Homo sapiens: one gene and its partners. The protein of the gene in region 1 purifies or fractionates together with the protein of each later gene. This does not show direct contact. Each region holds a gene or a part of one and is shown on either strand. Other genes may lie near its edges.

Region 1 (7,078 bases):
AGGAAAATGGCTCTACCTCCAACCAAGTACCAACTACTCCAATCAAAGTAACACTTACTTTATACAAGGTTTATTTTCTCGTAGAAAGGTCCTAGGACTGGCACACTCAATTCCATCTAAGGCATGGCACTGGACTGAAGTGTGTTCCACGTCGCTGTAGGCCTGACCGCCGAACTGTGGAATAACAACCAAGACCAAAACCAACTCACCAGAGCAAGTGACACAAACATCTATCTTTATATTCACTAATAACAGAATGAAAGCGGCCTCAGGACTACAATTATTCCAACAAGGTTGAGGTACAGCTGTGCTCAAGGGCAAGGAATTTAGTGACACACTTCTGAGTCCATCTTAAAGGTACACTGTCTTAAATAAACTCCTGCTTTCTTCTTCATGACTGGCTTCTTCAATAATATAGTAAAAAAAACCCCCAAACACACTCAGTGTCATTAAAGGCCATTTAGAAGAGATGAACACAATGCTTTACTTATCTTTACTTATAAGCATATGTATATGCTTATACATATTTATATGTATAAGCTTATACATATTTACAGGAAAAAGAGCATATAACTGAGCATTTGGGAGTGGGTATTTAAAAAGTCACTGCCTATTAGAGGTCTCTTTTATATCTATTAAAAATGAATAGAATTAGGAAAGAACTCAGGATATTATCTGACTCAGGACTTTATTTAGGTCATAAATGTGTATTACCTGATATCTGTGGGACACCTGTTAAGTTTAAATTCCAGCCAAAAATTTCAGAACTGGGCCTCTTACCATTGCTTAACTGAATTCTAGCCAAGAAATCACAGATATTCATTTTTTACTGGTACCTTATATCAGTGCTTATTACTATTTTCATTGGCGAGTTCCTCAAAGGGAAGGGACTGGGAAATAAGAATGCTTACAGGATAAACTCAATTTTTAATTAAAATGGGCAAAAGTGATCTCTATACAATATTAACTCAAACTTTAATCAATAATTATCAACAGAGTAAAATTTCATTGTCTTAAATATTTATCTATACATGATTTCAGTAAGAGTTGCCCTTTTAGTCTTATTACTGTCAGGTTTATTCCTCTGTGTCTGATTTAGTACAAAACATGCCTTCCCATCATTCTCTTAACATCTGACCAAATCTTGACTTGCATTATGTGGCATAATAGGATGGCGAGTCCATGGTGGGGAGGAGATACATGAACTTCATTGGTTATTTTGAGAGATTGATTAGGAACTGTACACTCAGCTTTAGGGATATTACTAATAAACCTTAATAGCGTTTTTCCATTCCAAGAAGCCACTGTTAACCAATGGCTTCCGCTGGAACGCTTTAATGTCCTACAAAGACATATACCGGTAGACTCTATCTGTCTCCTACGGACATGGTGGAACCTGTTTGCCTGGAGAAAAGAAATGTCATTGGCAAGAAAAGCTCTGCCCCAAATGCATGTGTAACAAAGATACTGCCCAATCCATCACCAGTGTTGCAAAGTGCACAGACTTCCTTTTGCTCTTTCAGGAAAGGTTCATGCCTTGAAGGAGAGTCAGGGGTGACATTTTAGTTTCAAAATCTGTCAGTGGCCAAAGGAACCAAAGACAGGTTGGTCTTTGCACCTGGGTGGTTTTAGCACAGAGATTGCTCCTTCATAAGGAAACCAAATATCTTGTTCAGTCACTGACCCTGGCCATACTGGAAATTTCCAGTAACGGTCTTTCTGAGGAAATTCTTCAAAAAACTTTGTACCTCTTATACTTTTATGTAATAGCATTCAGACATTCCTATTTCGTTATCGAAGGGTTTGCTCTTACGACAAAACAAAAACTCACCTTGAGACAACCATAACCAAGTTCCTGGGATGCAGTTGCATTTCCAACATGATCCACTGGGTCTTCACATTCTATAAATTCATCAGGTCTGTAATTCACCAGTAAGATCATGATCATCATCATACGGTCTTTGCAAATCGCTGTTTGCATGCACGTAATCAAAACGGGCAAAAGACATTTCTTCATCAAGTTTTCTGGGGTTCGGTTTCACCCTGCTGACCCCTTTCCAAGCCAATTAAACTGAAGCACAGCAGGTCAAACGGACAGCCACCAAAATGAACCTTTTGTTGGAGAAGGGAGGTGTTTCTGGTCCTGTTTCTATAAGGATTCTACTTCTGCCATGGTTTCATCTCTTCAGTAGGCAAACAACAAGATTCTGGGGGCAAAATTTAAGCCAAAGTATTCTCAGTCCTCTTTGCATTTCCCAAATGCCTTTTCTTGTTTGATCAAAAAGAGATGTTAAAAAATGGCGTGATTCTGCAACGGTAAGAATATTGATTGCTTTTTTAAAAGATGCCTTGTAGGCAGAGACAAGTCATTTACTCCATTTATGCCTTACTCAGTACTGGCACCGAATCGACCGACTAATACTCTCCTTGGGCTAAAGGGCGCAGGGCAAAGAAAGCACAACCTTACGCCCTTCTTCCAGAGGCTATATGATGTTACTCCTACCCAGTTTTCCTCTTTGGGGATCTCAAAGCCTCTGTCACTGACACACAAGAGTTTTCTCTGCACGGGCTGTGAGAAACCTGGTTCATGATATTTGCCTCCGGAACGACCTCAGAGAGGCAGGGTCTGAAAAAATGCAGCGTCCCCCCAACCCTGCCTTCCCTTAACACCCATATATTCCTGGCACACCCTCCACGTCCACCCGCCTCGACCACTGGTAGCTTACAGGTAAGAGCAGAGGATGACCGGAGAGTGGGGGTCGCCATATTCCCAGCTCGCAGCACCCCCGGGGCCCTCCGGCTGGGCGGCGCCAGCGGATGTGAGCTCAGGCTCAGCGGTCGCATTTTGCGAGTGGCTCCGAGACACACAATGCAGCAGAAGTAAATTCCCCAGCAGCAAAGCCGCCTGGCCGCACAGAAGTAAGTAACTAACCGGGCAACCACCTAGCACCATCTTCCCGGGCACAGGAGCGGAGACCCGGCCTCAACCACAACCCCAGGCCAGCAGCACAGACCCAAGAACTGCGTGGTCAGGCCTTTCCGCGTAGCCCCGCCCGCGTAGCCCCGCCAAACAGCCAATGGACGCGCAGCTCGACGCTCCGCGCACCTCCGCCAACCAACTAGAAAAGGTCGAGCAGACGGGCGGGGCTACTCCGCCCTCTGCTTCTGCTTCTCGATTCCTCTTCTGGGTCTCATGCTCCTCCTTCTTTTGCGCCGAATGCGTTCTCCAATCGGATCCGTCGACCCCCCTAGGTGGGCGTGCCCGGCAGCCGACGGGGCGGGGCGGATATGACTGGCGGGCCGACTAGTGCTGGTTGCCACCGCCGGTTTAGAAATCCTATTCTCGCGCCGGGGACTGGATTTTTCCCTACGTCAGCGCAGCTAGGCGATGTCGGGAGCGAGCTCGGACCGAGGGCTCAGTTGCGTCAGTGCCGCGCGCGTGCTCGTCGGGCGCGCGTGCTCGTCGGGCGCGCGCGCTTCCCGGCCAGACTTGGGGCCCCGGCAGGGTTGGAAAATGATGGAAGAGGCGGAGGTGGAGGCGACCGAGTGCTGAGAGGAACCTGCGGAATCGGCCGAGATGGGGTCTGGCGCGCGCTTTCCCTCGGGGACCCTTCGTGTCCGGTGGTTGCTGTTGCTTGGCCTGGTGGGCCCAGTCCTCGGTGCGGCGCGGCCAGGTGGGTGTCCGCGCCCCGGGTCGGTTGGGACGGCTGCTTCCTAGGGACGGGGCGCTCGGAGTGAACCTGTGGTGCCTGGGAGTGGAGGGGCCCGGCCTGGGGATCGGACCCGGGGTCGGGGGGCGCGGCCGCTCCAGGTGTGTGCGGACCGGGGTCGCACCCGAGGCGCGGGGTTTGGCGCCCCAAGCCCTTCTTGGCCCGGGTCCTCTGCCCGGCACCGCTTCCTCCGTGTCCTGTTCGATGGAGCCGTTCCCAGCGTCCCCCCATCCCTCGCCGCCTCGCGCGACCCCGGGTCCCCCAGACGCCCCGAAACCCGCTCTGGGGCGGGCGCTGACCTCGGCGGGCCGGAGCCCTGCAGGCTGGGCGCGCCCGCGGGCGTTCAGTCCTCCAAACGCCTGCAGGGAGGGAGCTGGCTCTCGCTCGTGGAGTTAATGTCGCTTGGAAAGAGACTGAGAGATGAAACTTTTGCTGCAGGTTATAATTTGAAATTTTGACGTTCATGGTATCCTTGGGTCAACACAGCTAAATTTAATGGTGGAATAAAGGTGGGTGGGAGGACGCTCATTTCTCTTGGGTCATTTTTGTAGTAAGAATATTTTGTAAACGATGTGCTACCTTTCTATAGCCAAACCATTCTTAAAAAATCTGTGTTTTTATTGGGTTCGTACTGTGTTAAATCCGGACAGATAATCCCTGCTCTTTTGAACTCACAGGATTATTGTAGGAATTAAATCATTTGTGTGAAATCGTTTTTGAATTGTGAAACTGCCCTTGACTATGTAAGATACTTGTATTGGAGATGCCCAAACATAGTGGAAGCAGATTGTCAGCACGCTGGCGTCTTTCTGGAAACAAGTTGTTTATTTTGGATTTTGTATGATATAATTGTTTGCATGGCTGTATTTTCTCTATCAGCGACAGAGGATGATGGAGAATGGGAGTTTTTACTAAATCATTGATTGAAAGTTATTCAAAGGTGATGATAGAAGATTTCAACGCAGGACTGTTGACCTTCAGGAAACTAATTACTTGTTTTTCTTATCTTTGGCTGCTTTATTTGAAATTAAGTAAATTTGCCCCAGTGTGGAAATGTTGAAACTCTGACAATGTTTTGAATGGGAAGTTGCCAAATTTCTTCTGGTTAAAACTACTTTTCCGGTGGTATTCTAGATGGTTAACACTCACCGATGTTTAAGGTGAAGACGATTATACATCCGGAGTTTTATTAATCTGTGATTTTTTTTTGTGTTTGTAAATGTAAATAAGACTGTATTTTTAAATGTTAATATAAATTGTCAGTCATTACCGACCTGCATTAGGTGAGTGGAATATCCTGATGGTCTTTAACTGTGGTTTTGGCCAGCTCCTCACTTCGGCATGTGTATGCCCCTTCAAAGTTTAGCCACCGTTTATGGAACTCCTATAAACACCACACAGTTGATTGTAGAGGGGCAGAAGGTGACCAAATATGCTAAGCGCATCTGAGAGATGTTGGGGAAGATTTTTAGAGAAAATAATATTTGAACTGGGCTACATCGGTGATTTTTCAAGTAGAATAGTAGATACATTCTAAGCAGAGGAAAGTTTTTGCAAGAGTATGGTGGGGCGGGGGGCGTATGAAAGAACATGACTTTTTAGGAAATGATAAAAATGTCAATATGTCTTCATGCAGACTATAAAAGGGAGGGATGGAAGATCAAACTAAGGTAGGTTGTTACCAGTTGGGAAGAGTCTTCTATGCTGAACTAAGGGGTTTGGACTTCACCCCGTAGGAAGTTCTTTGGGCAGTGGAGGTTTTAAGTAGGGGTGCGACCTAATCTCATTTTCTGTTAAGAAAACGGGCAACACGGTGGAGGATAGAATCTAGGAGGGAGAGACTAGAGGCTGGGACACCGGTTAAGAGGCTTTTGTAATAGTGTGCAGTGAGTCAACTCTTGTTTCTCTCGGGGAACGTTCATACAAAATCAGCTGACCACATTTTTGCAGTATAAGGTGTTTAAAACGTGCACTGAAACATTTTCCAGGATCGAAAGAGGAATTTGAGGTACCAGGCACACGTCAGTTACATTAGGAGTTAATTAGGTTTTATAGGATTTTTACTACCTTTTATAACATTGTCTCAATGAGGAAATGCAGTATAATTTCCAAACAGCTAACTTTCAGTAAACTTTTTTTTTTTTTTTAAACTGACAAAGGTAACTGTGTCATTGTAAAAAATAAGCGGAATCAGGTATGAAACCTCTTCTGATTTTCTAAGGTAGTAATTATGAGGAACAGATTTAGAATTTTTTTTTAAACAAAGACTGGCATTCTAAAGAAAATGACTTTGAAAGCTTACTCATGGTGAGTCACTGTAAAATCATTTGTGTAGTAAGAACTTAGGTCCATACTAATCTCGTTTTCAGATGCCAGCAAAATATTTGAATTTGATATGTTTGTGTTTGTGCCGATAGGAGAATGTAGCCTTTTACATTTAAGAATGATTTGGTTTTCAACCTTTTAAGTAAAAAAGAAAGCATATATAATTAAAATATGTACAAACCTAGTTCCTGGTTTCCAAGACAGTTTTCAAAAAGCACTTGAAGCTTTAACTTACCAAATTTATATTTGCTCTTTGTAAAAAATCTGGGTTTATAATAGAATTTATTATGGAATCCCCCAAAAGATGCAAGCTCTAAGTAACTGGAAGCTTTTTCTTGGGAATATCCGCAAGCTCAAACATATGACATAGCCTCATATTTCTTTTTCCTTTTTGGTATGTAACATATACTGGAGGCTTGGAGTCATGCCATCCTTTTGAGTCAGCGCTATGGAACTGCCTCATAAATGAATGCAGTCCTTTTGTATCTCAGTAGCTAATCCCTCACAGTCTTTTTTTTTTTGAGATGGAGTCTTGCTGTGTCGCCCAGGCTGGAGTGCAGTGGCACGATCTCGGCCCACTGCAACCTTCACCTCCCGAGTTCAAGCAATTCTCCTGCCTCAGCCTTATGCCTGGCTAGTTTTTTGTATTTTTAGTAGAGATGGAGTTTCACGGTATTAGCCAGGATGGTCTCGACCTCCTGACCTCGTGATCCGCCCACCTCAGCCTCCCAAAGCGCTGAGACTACAGGCATGAGCCACCGCGCCCCAGCCTCTCTCACAGTCTTTGAATGGGTCTAATGTGGACCCAACTAAAGTTGGGTAGCACAATGTTGTTTGTATATTGAGAGATTATTGTAGTTTATTTTCCATTTCATGTTGTTATTTTAATCAGATTATTTTCCCTAAGTGATCATATGTGGGACACTGCTTGAGTCACATCTTTTTTTTTTCTTTCTGAGAGACAGGGTCTTGCTCTGTTGCCCAGGCTGGAGTGCAGTGGAACAGTCATAGATCACTGTAACCTCGAATTCCTGGGCTGAAGC
Region 2 (4,203 bases), on another chromosome or scaffold:
ATTTTTGCCTCTTGACTTACAAAGCCTAAAATATTTCCTGTTTGGTCCTTTATCCACCTCTGTCTTAGATGAATATACTTTTGTGTTTATCCTAAATAAAATATATACCTAAAATATAATCTAAGAAAAATGTTTATAAGTAGTTTTCTTTTGGGCATAATCTCTTTTCGTGTCTCAGGGGCATTGAAATAAAAATTATTTCATTATTTCTTGAGCAAAAAGGAAAAGGTTTCAATCTTTATAGCAAGAAATAGCCTGATTGATATTAAATAAACAGATCTATTTATTATTATATATGGGAACCTGTAAATGTTAAATTATTTTAGAAAAATCAATGCAAGAATAACTGTAGCCATTACTTTTCTATGAAATAATGTTTTACTTTTTTAACTTCCTTACAGTTCTTATTTCATCGACCATTAAGGCTGTTAAATCTGCTCATCCTTATTGAGGGCAGTGTCGTCTTCTATCAGCTCTATTCCTTGCTGCGGTCGGAGAAGTGGAACCACACACTTTCCATGGCTCTCATCCTCTTCTGCAACTACTATGTTTTATTTAAACTTCTCCGGGACAGAATAGTATTAGGCAGGGCATACTCCTACCCACTCAACAGTTATGAACTCAAGGCAAACTAAGCTGCCTCTCAACAATGAGGGAGAACTCAGATAAAAATATTTTCATACGTTCTATTTTTTTCTTGTGATTTTTATAAATATTTAAGATATTTTATATTTTGTATACTATTATGTTTTGAAAGTCGGGAAGAGTAAGGGATATTAAATGTATCCGTAAACAAGGTGATGTGATCTTTCATGTGTTAGTATATTCGAATAATATACATATGAGAGGTATGCCTGTCCAGTAAAGAGATTGATTTGTTTGTATGGCTCTGGAATAACTCATTCGTTTATGAACACATCTCATGTATTACTTGACACAGTACCTTTGGTATGTCTGCTTTTCTTTCAATCCTCATTATCTTTAGCCCTCAGCTGGCCAGTACTTATTGCTAAAGAAAGGGAGATCAATGGAGTTGCCTACCAGCACCCATTCTCTTTTAGTTCAGCTGGCTAATAGTATTGGAATACATTGGGAAAAGAGTGGGTTAAAGTCCTAGGTGGGGTTCTCTTTGTTGCCTACCAGGAGAAAGCAGTAGGCTTCCTTTCTAAGATACGGACTCAGCTGGTCTATTTTACCCTGTGACATTTAAATATACTTTTGAATAAGCTACTATCCTGAGGCTGAGGGTTTTGCTGCCACTTTTCCTGTGTTTCCACTTCTGCTTCCAAAGATTTTCCTCTTAGTTGTTTGAAATAATACTTTGCCAGACAGGAAGTCTTTAGACTGCCCACATTCATGAAGAAGATGATGTGTGGCTGGATCAGTAGGAGAAGCTGAGTGCAAATGCCATGTGGGCTAGAGTATGGGAAGGTTGAAAATTCCAAGTAACTGGGAGAGTGGGCAAGTCCTCAGCTGAACAATCTTGGATGTAGTCTAGCAGCAACCCACCTACAATGGCGTTATGTTTGGAGTTATGAGGGGAAGTGAAAGATAAGAATTACCTACAGCTTTGTACTCAGATAATTTATATCCAAAATTTGTGTTTTAAATTTCATACTCCAGAACTTTCATGTTTATGAGTATTAGCCTTTTAAGTTATGGGAGGTGATATACTTAGTCCATTGATGTTGTCACTTGTCATCTAAACTTATGAGACCTTGTCTTAGAGAATCTAAAATATATTGTCATATGTTTTCTGTGCTGAGTTTGGTTTGTTACACTGTGAAGCTTTTGGTGAAACAAAATAAGACTTATGAAGTAAAAAGACCAATCATGTCGTTGACAAGCTGGCTCTGAAAATAATTCTTGCAGAAGAGTTCCTGAAAGGCTTCACCAAGGGGAAGTATTGTGAGGAGTGTTTGTAAAACCAAGGTACCCAATATCAGTTTTATGTTTAAATCAATAATTGTTTCTTTAAATATTTTGATGTGTATACTTTTTTTTTAAGTTAACATTATTTGGCATTCAGTCTGAGTCTGTTCAACCATTCAACAAATATATATTAACCAGTAGGCACTATATTAGGCCCTGGGGATATAGCAGTGAATGAGAAATGCAAAGGTCCTACTTGCACAGAGCTTACAATATGCGTGGGGGTGGGGGAGTTAGGTGGTGCAGAAAATACAGCAAATAAATTTATGTGTAATATAACATTCCCTGGTAGTAGTGATAAGTGTAGCAAAGGGAAATCAGGACAAGGAAATAGTGGTAAGAATAGCACTGCTAGAAGGCATCTTTGAGGAGATGATTTTTAAGCAAAGAAAAAGCAAGACTGAATCATATAAATAGCTTTGGGGAGAATTCCATGTTACAGTAGCAGAAAGGGCAGTGCCCTGAGGTGGGGACAAGTTGGTATATTGGAAGAATAGCAAGAAAATATATTAGGTTAGTTGCTTTTTAAAGTAGTTCAGCCTAAATATAGTGGTTCTTGAGGTAGGGGTGGGAAGGGTAGGGAATCTGCCATCTTTCTATTCTTTCTGTAGGATCTTGAAAATATGCTTCTCTTGGCAGCAACATTTTCATGAGATTACTCAGCAGTTGAGAGCAAAATGGGTGGCATGGGCACAGAGATATCTCATCAAAATTGCCCCAACTTGGCTCCAGCTTGGGAAAGTAACCCAGAAAACCCTGATTAGAGATAACAGACCAGTCTTATGAACTAATATGATGCCCCTTCTGGCTTGATCTGTCTTGGTCCTATCCTAAGGGAATAGCACAGAACCAGATGCTGGCTTGGCTAAATAAGTAAGTGGATATAAGAAATAAATAAAAATTAATTTTGGCTAATGGAATTGCAAAGTTCCTCCTACCCTCACCTCCAGATATGGCAGCATACGGGGCATAAGACCGTTTAGTTCAACGTGTTCTACACATTCCAGCTGTTTTTTGTTTGTTTGTTTTGTTGTTTTGTTTTTGTAGGGGCCACGTTCATGGAAGAGAGAAAAATTACTAGTTACCCGGATATCCTATTATAGTTCATGTAACAGAAGGGACACTATATTTGCTCACTGATAGTAGAAAAATGTGTAATCATTAAAGAATGACCTTTTTTGTAATTCTTTGTTGGCAAGTTAAAATTGTTTGTGGAAAGCATGGTATAGCAAAAGTTCAGTTGGGTGAACTGGGATACTGGAAAAGGAAAGAAGATACTTGACTAGTCTGGGTGGTCTAAGGTGGGTAAATAAAGGAGTAGAGGAGGGTAGTTCACAGGAATGAGCATGACAGAAGTTTTCCTCAATATCCTGTTTACTCTGATTCCATGTTTATATTCCTAATCCTCCTTTCCTTCCTGTCCCTATCAGTCACCACCACTGCCACCTGTTGTGCCGTTTCTCTCTCTTTTTTTTAATTAATTTTTTTATTTCTATTAAGCTAGCCAGGCATCTCATTTCTATGTACTGGGCAATTATATGCCAAACACTGCTGGGTGCCGGAGATAGTGATGTTCGAGTTCATTAACTAATAGAAGACAGACAAGTAAACCAGTTGTCACACTAGGGTGTTCATTAACAGAAATATGTATGAGATACGTAATAGATATCAGATCTATTAACAATCTTGAGTGTGAAGCCCAATAAAGTGCTCTTTTCATAAGTACTTCAAATAAGCAGACAGATGTCTTGGAACTTTTGTAGACAGAAGACAGCTAATGAAAGATTATAAGCTAAGAATAACTTATGATCCACTGGTTTCTAGTTCCCAAAGTAATCTCTAGATCAGCAGCATCAGCATCACTTAACTGATCAGCTGACCCTTCTGGAATCATAGGATAGACTAAATAGTGAAGGTCTATCCCTTCCCAAGAACACCTGTAACGGCCAGAAGAGGGGGCTGTCTCCTCAAATGCACTGACAACAATACAAGAACATACAGATTATGAAGAATCAGGGAATCATGACACCTACAAAAGAAACTAATAAAGCTCCAATAATAGACCCCAAAGAAATGGAGATTTATGAAATAACTGACAAAGAATTCAGAATAATACCCATAAAGAAGTTCAGTGAACTATTAATATATACAGATAAAAAATTTAATGAAATTTGAAAACAGTACACTAAAAAGAAAGTTGACAAATAGAAACAATAAGAATGGGATAGAAATTCAAGAGACTGAAAAATTCAACAGAAAGCTTCAACAGCT
Region 3 (7,036 bases), on another chromosome or scaffold:
GCAAACAAGCATTTGTTGAGCATCTGTGACTTGTGAGCCACGACACCAGCTGCAGTGGGAGATGCCACAATAGAAATGTAAGGTTGGAAAGGCGTGCCTAACAAAGGGGGTGCTGGGCAGAGTGGGCTACAGGGACTCAGTGGGGGAGTCCCCGCATGCTCAAGTGGTCAGTGCATGATGGAAGTGAGACAATGCTAGGTTCTGAAGGAAGCACAGCAGAAGGTCAGCAAGCAGAAGGTCAGCAAGCAGAAGGGAGAAGGGCAGGCCTTCCTGGGGGAGGAGATGCCGTCAGCAAGGAAGAGGAGGCAGGAATCCTGTGGGATGCTTCAGGCCAGACCAGTAGATTCTTTTGTTTTTTTTGAGACAGTCTCTCACTCTATTGCCCAGGCTGGAGTGCAGTGGCGCAATCTTGGCTCACTGCAACCTCCGCCTCCTGGGTTCAAGCAATTCTCCAGCCTCAGCCTCCTGAGTAACTGGGATTAAAGGCATGTGCCACCACACCCAGCTAATTTTTGTATTTTTTAGTAGAGACAGGGTTTCACCATGCTGGCCAGGCTGGTTTCGAACTCCTGACCTCAAGCGATCCACCTGCCTCAGCCTCCCAGAGTGTTGGGGTTACAGGCATGAGCCACCATGCCCGGCCTCAGACCAACAGATTCTTTTAGCAAAGGCAAAAAAAAAAAAAATCATCTGAGTTCTCAATCTATGATAAGTGGGGAGCTGCTGAAACTCTACAAGAAGGAAAGAAACATGAAGAAGGCAACATTTAAGATAAAATGTGTAAACTGAGGAGAACCAAGCCAGGACCACAGTTAGGTCCTGCTAGAAAGGAGATGGCCCAGAACACTGAGGCCTTGCCATAGAAAGGGTGATGTAAGTCAATTCTCTGGTGCCAGAGACAGCAGTGCCCCTGCTGGACCTTCTCAGGGAGACAGGCAGCATACAGAGGAGGTGTGGTCTTTTCTCTTGCACCTCTTCTAACTTTCCCTTTACTCTGTCCTTCCTATTATTTATGTATAGTTCTTTATATTTTTCTGCCAAGAATTTTGAAAAGCTCCCCAGAACAAAACTTTCTCTTTTATATTTTTTCCCCCAGAATTCAAATGATGGATTTTTTCCTAACTTAAATCCTTCCTTGGAGAAGGCAGAGCATAAATAAATCAGTAGTAAAGTGGTTTAATAGGCAGCTCCACTGCTGCCTCTCTGTGCATGTCAAATGAGGTCCCTACTTTACAGCAAACAAAAAAGACAATCCATCATTTAGTTCTACCTGACCCATTCCTGCGTTCAGGCTACTCATCATGAGAATGTACACCCAGATACATCAGAAGAGGAAGGATTATGGCCTGAGGAGGTGGCCAGCGTTTGCTGAATAATAAAGTCATTATCTGAGTGGACAGAATGAATGGAAAATATGAGGCTGTGGTCTCCCTGCTGCTGGTCAGCTTGTCCAGGGAAAGTCCCATTAGAATGGAATTCTGCACACATCTGGGCGAACACATCTGGAACATTTCTTCAGCAGGGCACGCACAGCCAAGAGCTAACGCTGGAGTGCAATGGCGTGATCTCGGCTCACTGCAAACTCCCCTCCTGGGTTCAAGTGATTCTCCTGCTTCAGCCTCCCAAGTAGCTGGGATTACAGGTACCCACCACTACGCCCAGCTAATTTTGTGTATTTTTAGCAGAGACAGGCTTTCACCATGTTGGCCAGGCTGGTCTCGAACTCCTGACCTTGTGATTTGCCCACCTCGGCCTCCCAAAGTGTGCTCACTTATAAATTTAACAGACATTCATCGAGACCCTATAGCATGATTGGCCCATCTATGAGCAGGGGACGCTTGGGTGAATGAGTATCTCCAAGGCTGTAGGGAGCAGGGGAGTCAAACTGCCTGGGTTGACTCCTGGCACCATCCCTTATCAGCTATGTGATGTCAGGCAAACCACTCACTCTTCCCCATGAAATACACTTAAAAAAAAAAAAAGTTGCCACAGTTTATCTTTCTCTGTATCTGTACATACATATCCTTCTTCTGATCCACTTGAAAGTAGGAGCATAATGCCCCTTCACCCCATAATATTTCAGTGTGCATTTCCTAAGAACAAGAACATTCTCTTATATAACCACAGTTCAATGATCAAATTCAGGCCACTTAACACCGATACAACACTATTATCTAATGCACAGTCCATATTCCAATTCTGTCAATTGTCTCAATAATAATCTATGGAAAAACAGGATGTCCTGCTGCATTTAACAGTCATGTATCTTTTAGTCTCCTTTAATCCGGGACCGTTCCTCGGCCTTTGTCTTTCATGCACTGAACATTTTTAAAGCATACTGGCCAACTTAACCTTTCTTTTAAAAGAAAATATAATAATAGCCCCTACGTCCCCGGTGGTGTGAGGATAAATGAGGTGACGCTTGGGCTGCTCTGAATTCCGGGCCTGGAACGCCGATAAATGTGAGCGATTAGTTTTTCTCACAGTTATTAGTAGTAAAGAGTTGTAGTAAACACAGGCCCCTGTCTCATAAAATAAGAGGGGAAAGGACAGAACAGTTCAGAACCACCCTGGTGGGAGTGGAATGAAGGGGCATGTACAAGGTGCTATGGGCCTATGGGGCCAGGCAGGAAGTGCTGGACAATGAGTGGCTGAGGATGGGCGCATGTACCGGCAAGGGAGTGGGGTGCTCCAGGCACAGGACCAGGTGGAGCCCGTGCCCAGGGAATGGGTCAGCATGTTACCAGTGGATCAGCATGGCTGGTGTGCACTGCCGAGGGTGGCGCTGGAAACGGAAGTGAGGAAGGATGAAAAACTGCTGAGGCTTCACTCCTGACTGACCCTGGTGGCTCTCAGCAGTCACTGAGCTCTCCATGGTCTGCCGAGAGAGCAGCTGTTTGCTGTACCTGGTCTTCACCTGATGGCCGCTTATCTGGACCTTCCCGTCCTGCCACCATCCCCACCACCTTCCCAACCAAGCTCTTAGGAAAGGAGTCCACAAGCTGATCTGCCTTCCTCCCATAGCCTCTGCCTCTCTCCTGGGCTCCTAACACTGCTTCCTGATAAACCTGCATTCTGACCAGATCCCCACCCTCAAATACCTTTCAACTCAAGTTCCCTTCCTGCTCCAACTTCTCTAGCAGTGAGAAGTCACCAGTAGGTTGCTCAGCAACCTTGTATCACACCCTCAAGCAGGTGTGGTATAAGGTGCTGTCCTTCCTTGCCACGTAGTCCCATCCCTGATGAGCAGCAGGACAGACAGGAGGGGCATGGGGGGCGGGTCACCCTTGCAGAGTGCTGCTCCTATAAGAGCAAAATGTACAAAGTCTAAGTGCAAAAAGCAAAGTGACCCTCAGGTACTCTCACTTCTTTTTTTTTTTTTTTTTAGATGGAGTCTCACTCTGTCGCCCAGGCTGGAGTGCACTGGCACAATCTTGGCTCACTGCAAGCTCCGCCTCCCGGGTTCATGCCATTCTCCTGCCTCAGCCTCCCAAGTAGCTGGAACTATAGGCGCCCGCTACCACGCCTGGCTAATTTTTTGTATTTTTAGTAGAGATGGGGTTTCACCGTGTTAGCCAGGATGGTCTCAATCTCCTGACCTTGTGATCCGCCCACCTCGGCCTCCCAAAGTGCTGGGATTACAGGCTTGAGCCACCGCACCCGACCACTCTCACTTCTGAAACTTCCTGTGTGAAAGAGACAGTCTCCTAGAGAGTTCCCAGAATTCCTGGACTCAGCTGTAACCTGAGAAAGAAAACCAAACACCTGAGTCCTAAAACAGACTTGCCATCCAGTTTCCCGTCTGAGGTCAGAAGGTGTCTAACTGAGGCTGTAAAAGCAGCTCAGTGGAGGTGACAGGAGTTTGAGACATGCCCATTTCTAGCCAAGTTCTTACTGCTTGAGGAGTGATGAAGCCTTGGTCAATGCTGGGTTCCTAGCCACAGATAACTCAAGCTCAGCAATTAAAAAAGTCATGCTTACTACTTAAAAGGATGTCAGTGGAGACATCTGTCGAATTCCAGAAGCCTCACCACGTTCCTATAGCTTACACTTTATTCACAGACTCCAGCACTAACATTCCTGAGCTCTGAAATGCAGTTTTTCTGATGAAATGGACGGTGCATTTTTAGAAATATTCTTAATACATGCTTTAAATTACCTGATTTTGCATTCACACCTAATGAGATCACAGACGTTTTAGGACTAATAGCAGTGCTGGGTTTGAAAAGGCAGCAGTGGGGACATTATGAAAAATTCAGCACTGCTCCCCAAATGTGAATAAAATAGATGTTCATCTGACGAGTGTCCTTTATAGCTCTATTTTTGCTCCTTTTGCATTTCCCCTGTTCAGTCGTCAGTAAATTTCTCTTTACCATATTAAACTTTTATACATACAAATCTACATCAGTGCTGCAGGCACTGATTTCGATTTTGCAAATTGAATTTTGGGTGGTGACAGCAATTGGTACAGCGGCCCCTATTCTAGTCACACAAAGGGACGCATAAGCACTTTTGGGAAAGGGTGTTGCAAATTGCTTTGCTAATTAAGGTAGAGCTGGATTCGGTCCAGGAGGATCTATAAAAAAAGGTTTTCAAGACTTGGTAATGAACTTCTGAAATGAGTTCATTCTGTTATGGGAGCCTATTCCCTTCAATTGAGTTGAAAATGTATTTCTTGAGCACCTACTATAGAAAGAGTGCTCCACTAGGGGACGGTGAGGGGCCACAAAGACGACGACCCAGGCCAGCTGTGGAGAAGCTGGCAGGCACACTACAGAGACAAGATACACATGAATTAGAAACCAACCCTGCCCGGGGCAATGTGTAAGTGAGAGCCAGATCTGCGGAGCACGGGCCGCTGCACGAGACCCGAGGTGGGAGTTGGGCACCTGGCTGTGCTGATGGGGAGGTGTGGCAGGAAAGGGCTGAGTTTCACTGCAGCGACAGTGCAGAGAGTGAGGAGTGCCAACCTGGGCATGAGTGACACAGGGACCAGAAATGACTGGGAGGATGAGGCATGAAGAGGCACAGGACAAGAGTGTTTTAGGCAGACAGGGCTTTTAAGGGGAACCCAGGGAGGGCTCCAAGAGCCTGGGAAGCCACCAAATTCTTGACAAACTCTGTGTTTGGGTTTTTTGCGGTTGTAGGGGTGCAGTGATCCACAGCGCACTTAAGTCTCAAAGGATCAGAATTGCTTGTACCATGGCCAGTTTGGGAGACCATGAGAAGACACCCTTGCTGAGCCTGGGGCTCATGTTAGGGTGGTGCGAGGCAAGGTTGGAAACACAGGCTGGGACCAAGGATCAGAGGCACTGCAGGTCTCACAAAGTTGCCTGCCACCTGCCCAGGAGGCAATGGGCAGACCCCAAACATCTTTGAATAAAGTAGTGACCCACCAGAAGTGGCCAAGAATTTATCCCTTCAGGTGGAGCACTGCAGCTTTACATATGCAGAGATAAACGCCACCCCTTGGTGTGAATACTACCCTAGCTCACACTGGCGCCATTCAGAATTGGGAGAGAAAAAAAGATGGAGATGTTTGTATTCCCTCTTAGAGATGATTCTCCTTACAACTCCAGGTTTTCGATGGGCTCAATACATAATTAAAAATAGGATAATCTGTTCTTAGGACACTCTTCAAAAGCATAACTTCAGGGGGCCCACAAGTGGGGGTGAGCAACGTTGAGATGGCTTCACCGTGGCCAGCATATGCCAGGTGGCTTGGGAGCTAGCTCCCTGCCACACTGAGGAATGCCAAGGACCAGGCCTCAAATGGATGACTGAGAAAACAGAATCAAAAAAACCTTTGAATTCTCCTCTGAGAAGGTGGAAATACCATTTACCTTATTAGAAACCCAAGAAAAAGTTTAACTTCTTTCAAACTGGGCCAATATTATTATACTTAAACTTGCATACAATACAGTTAGAACTCCCTGGTGGGCGAAGAGCAGCAGCTCTTCTAGGACGCCCCTCGGAGTTGCACCTTGTGCTACATAAGTGGGTGCTGGTGTGCAGTCCGGGATCTTTTAGGAAGCACCTAATGAACTCATTAGAAAGATCTGCTCCTTTCTCTGTTGTTAGGTCAACAATTACATTTGTTGTGCCACCTTCCCCCACGTTGCAATTCTTTTATTAAGCTCTCAGCGCTGTAGGAAACACGTGTTCTTAGACAAACTGTATTCAAAATTGGCAAAGCCCATAAACACTGACTTTTTAAAACTACACAATAGGATATGGGGTGTAAGAGGAGTTACATGTGTTCCCGCTCCCACCACCACCTCCCCACTTGGTGGGTTTAGGGTGGACCACAAGACTCCCCAGAGGGCAATTTGAGGTGGAATAAATGGAGGCAGTGGTTTTTGTACTCTGGTTTTGTGTATGAATTATTGATTTGCCCTTTAGTTAACCCAGCTTTTCTCCGCCTGGTGTCCCACCCAGGACCATCTTTCTTCCCATCTGGACTGGTAGTGGCTGGGGCAAAGAATAGGTGGGTAAACACAGGGAGTTCCATTTGCTGCCCAAACTATCTATGGCCCAAAAAGGTTTGAACGGGCAACCAGGGGAAGGAAGTGGTTTGACGTTCATGGAATAAGAGGTTGTTCTAACAATAACTTGGAACAGCAGCTGAGGAAAGGCCAGGCACCCAGGAGACGATGCACACTAGGGCCAGAGGGGCTGGGTCTGTTTCTCACTTGGCTTGTCTCTTATGGCTACGGAACCCCCAGTGCGTTGTCTTGTTTTTCTGATGTTTCCTCATCTGTAAAATGGGAACAGTAATGGCTACCACTCAGCTGTACTAAGGATTAAATGAGATCACGCCGGCAAAGGTGCACTGTGCACCTTTCAGGGTGATCATTAGGACGAAGGAAGCCAAGAGGCTGAGAGGAGGACTGACTGCCTCTCTCCTCTACGGAAATGGAAAGACGGCATGAGCAGAGCTACTTTCCCCTCCAGTTCTGTCTTCTGGCAACCGGCTTAACCAAGGAGGAGCTCCATACTAGTCAGTCAACTGGATCTAAGCCCCACCTCCTGCTGC

Evidence for each region. The genes of interacting proteins can lie anywhere in the genome.
Region 2: the proteins of TM2D2 (region 1) and TMEM39A purify together in Homo sapiens (affinity purification with mass spectrometry; 2 studies listed by BioGRID and IntAct, with this or other methods). This does not show direct contact.
Region 3: the proteins of TM2D2 (region 1) and UQCC2 purify together in Homo sapiens (affinity purification with mass spectrometry; 2 studies listed by BioGRID and IntAct, with this or other methods). This does not show direct contact.

Annotation. Positions count from the first base shown.
Region 1 is NC_000008.11:38,993,487-39,000,564, forward strand, and holds the start of TM2D2 (TM2 domain-containing protein 2 isoform a precursor), read right to left. Parts: upstream 3,024-7,078; 5' UTR 2,954-3,023; coding exon 2,727-2,953; intron 2,309-2,726; exon of another isoform or gene 2,018-2,308; coding exon of another isoform or gene 1,920-2,017; coding exon 1,832-1,919; intron 175-1,831; coding exon 59-174; intron 1-58. Other genes in the region: ADAM9 (disintegrin and metalloproteinase domain-containing protein 9 precursor), read left to right, coding at 3,578-3,674.
Region 2 is NC_000003.12:119,428,413-119,432,615, reverse strand, and holds the end of TMEM39A (transmembrane protein 39A), read left to right. Parts: intron 1-401; coding exon 402-635; 3' UTR 636-3,667; downstream 3,668-4,203. UniProt on the Homo sapiens protein: Regulates autophagy by controlling the spatial distribution and levels of the intracellular phosphatidylinositol 4-phosphate (PtdIns(4)P) pools.
Region 3 is NC_000006.12:33,701,665-33,708,700, forward strand, and holds part of UQCC2 (ubiquinol-cytochrome c reductase complex assembly factor 2), read right to left. Parts: intron 1-7,036.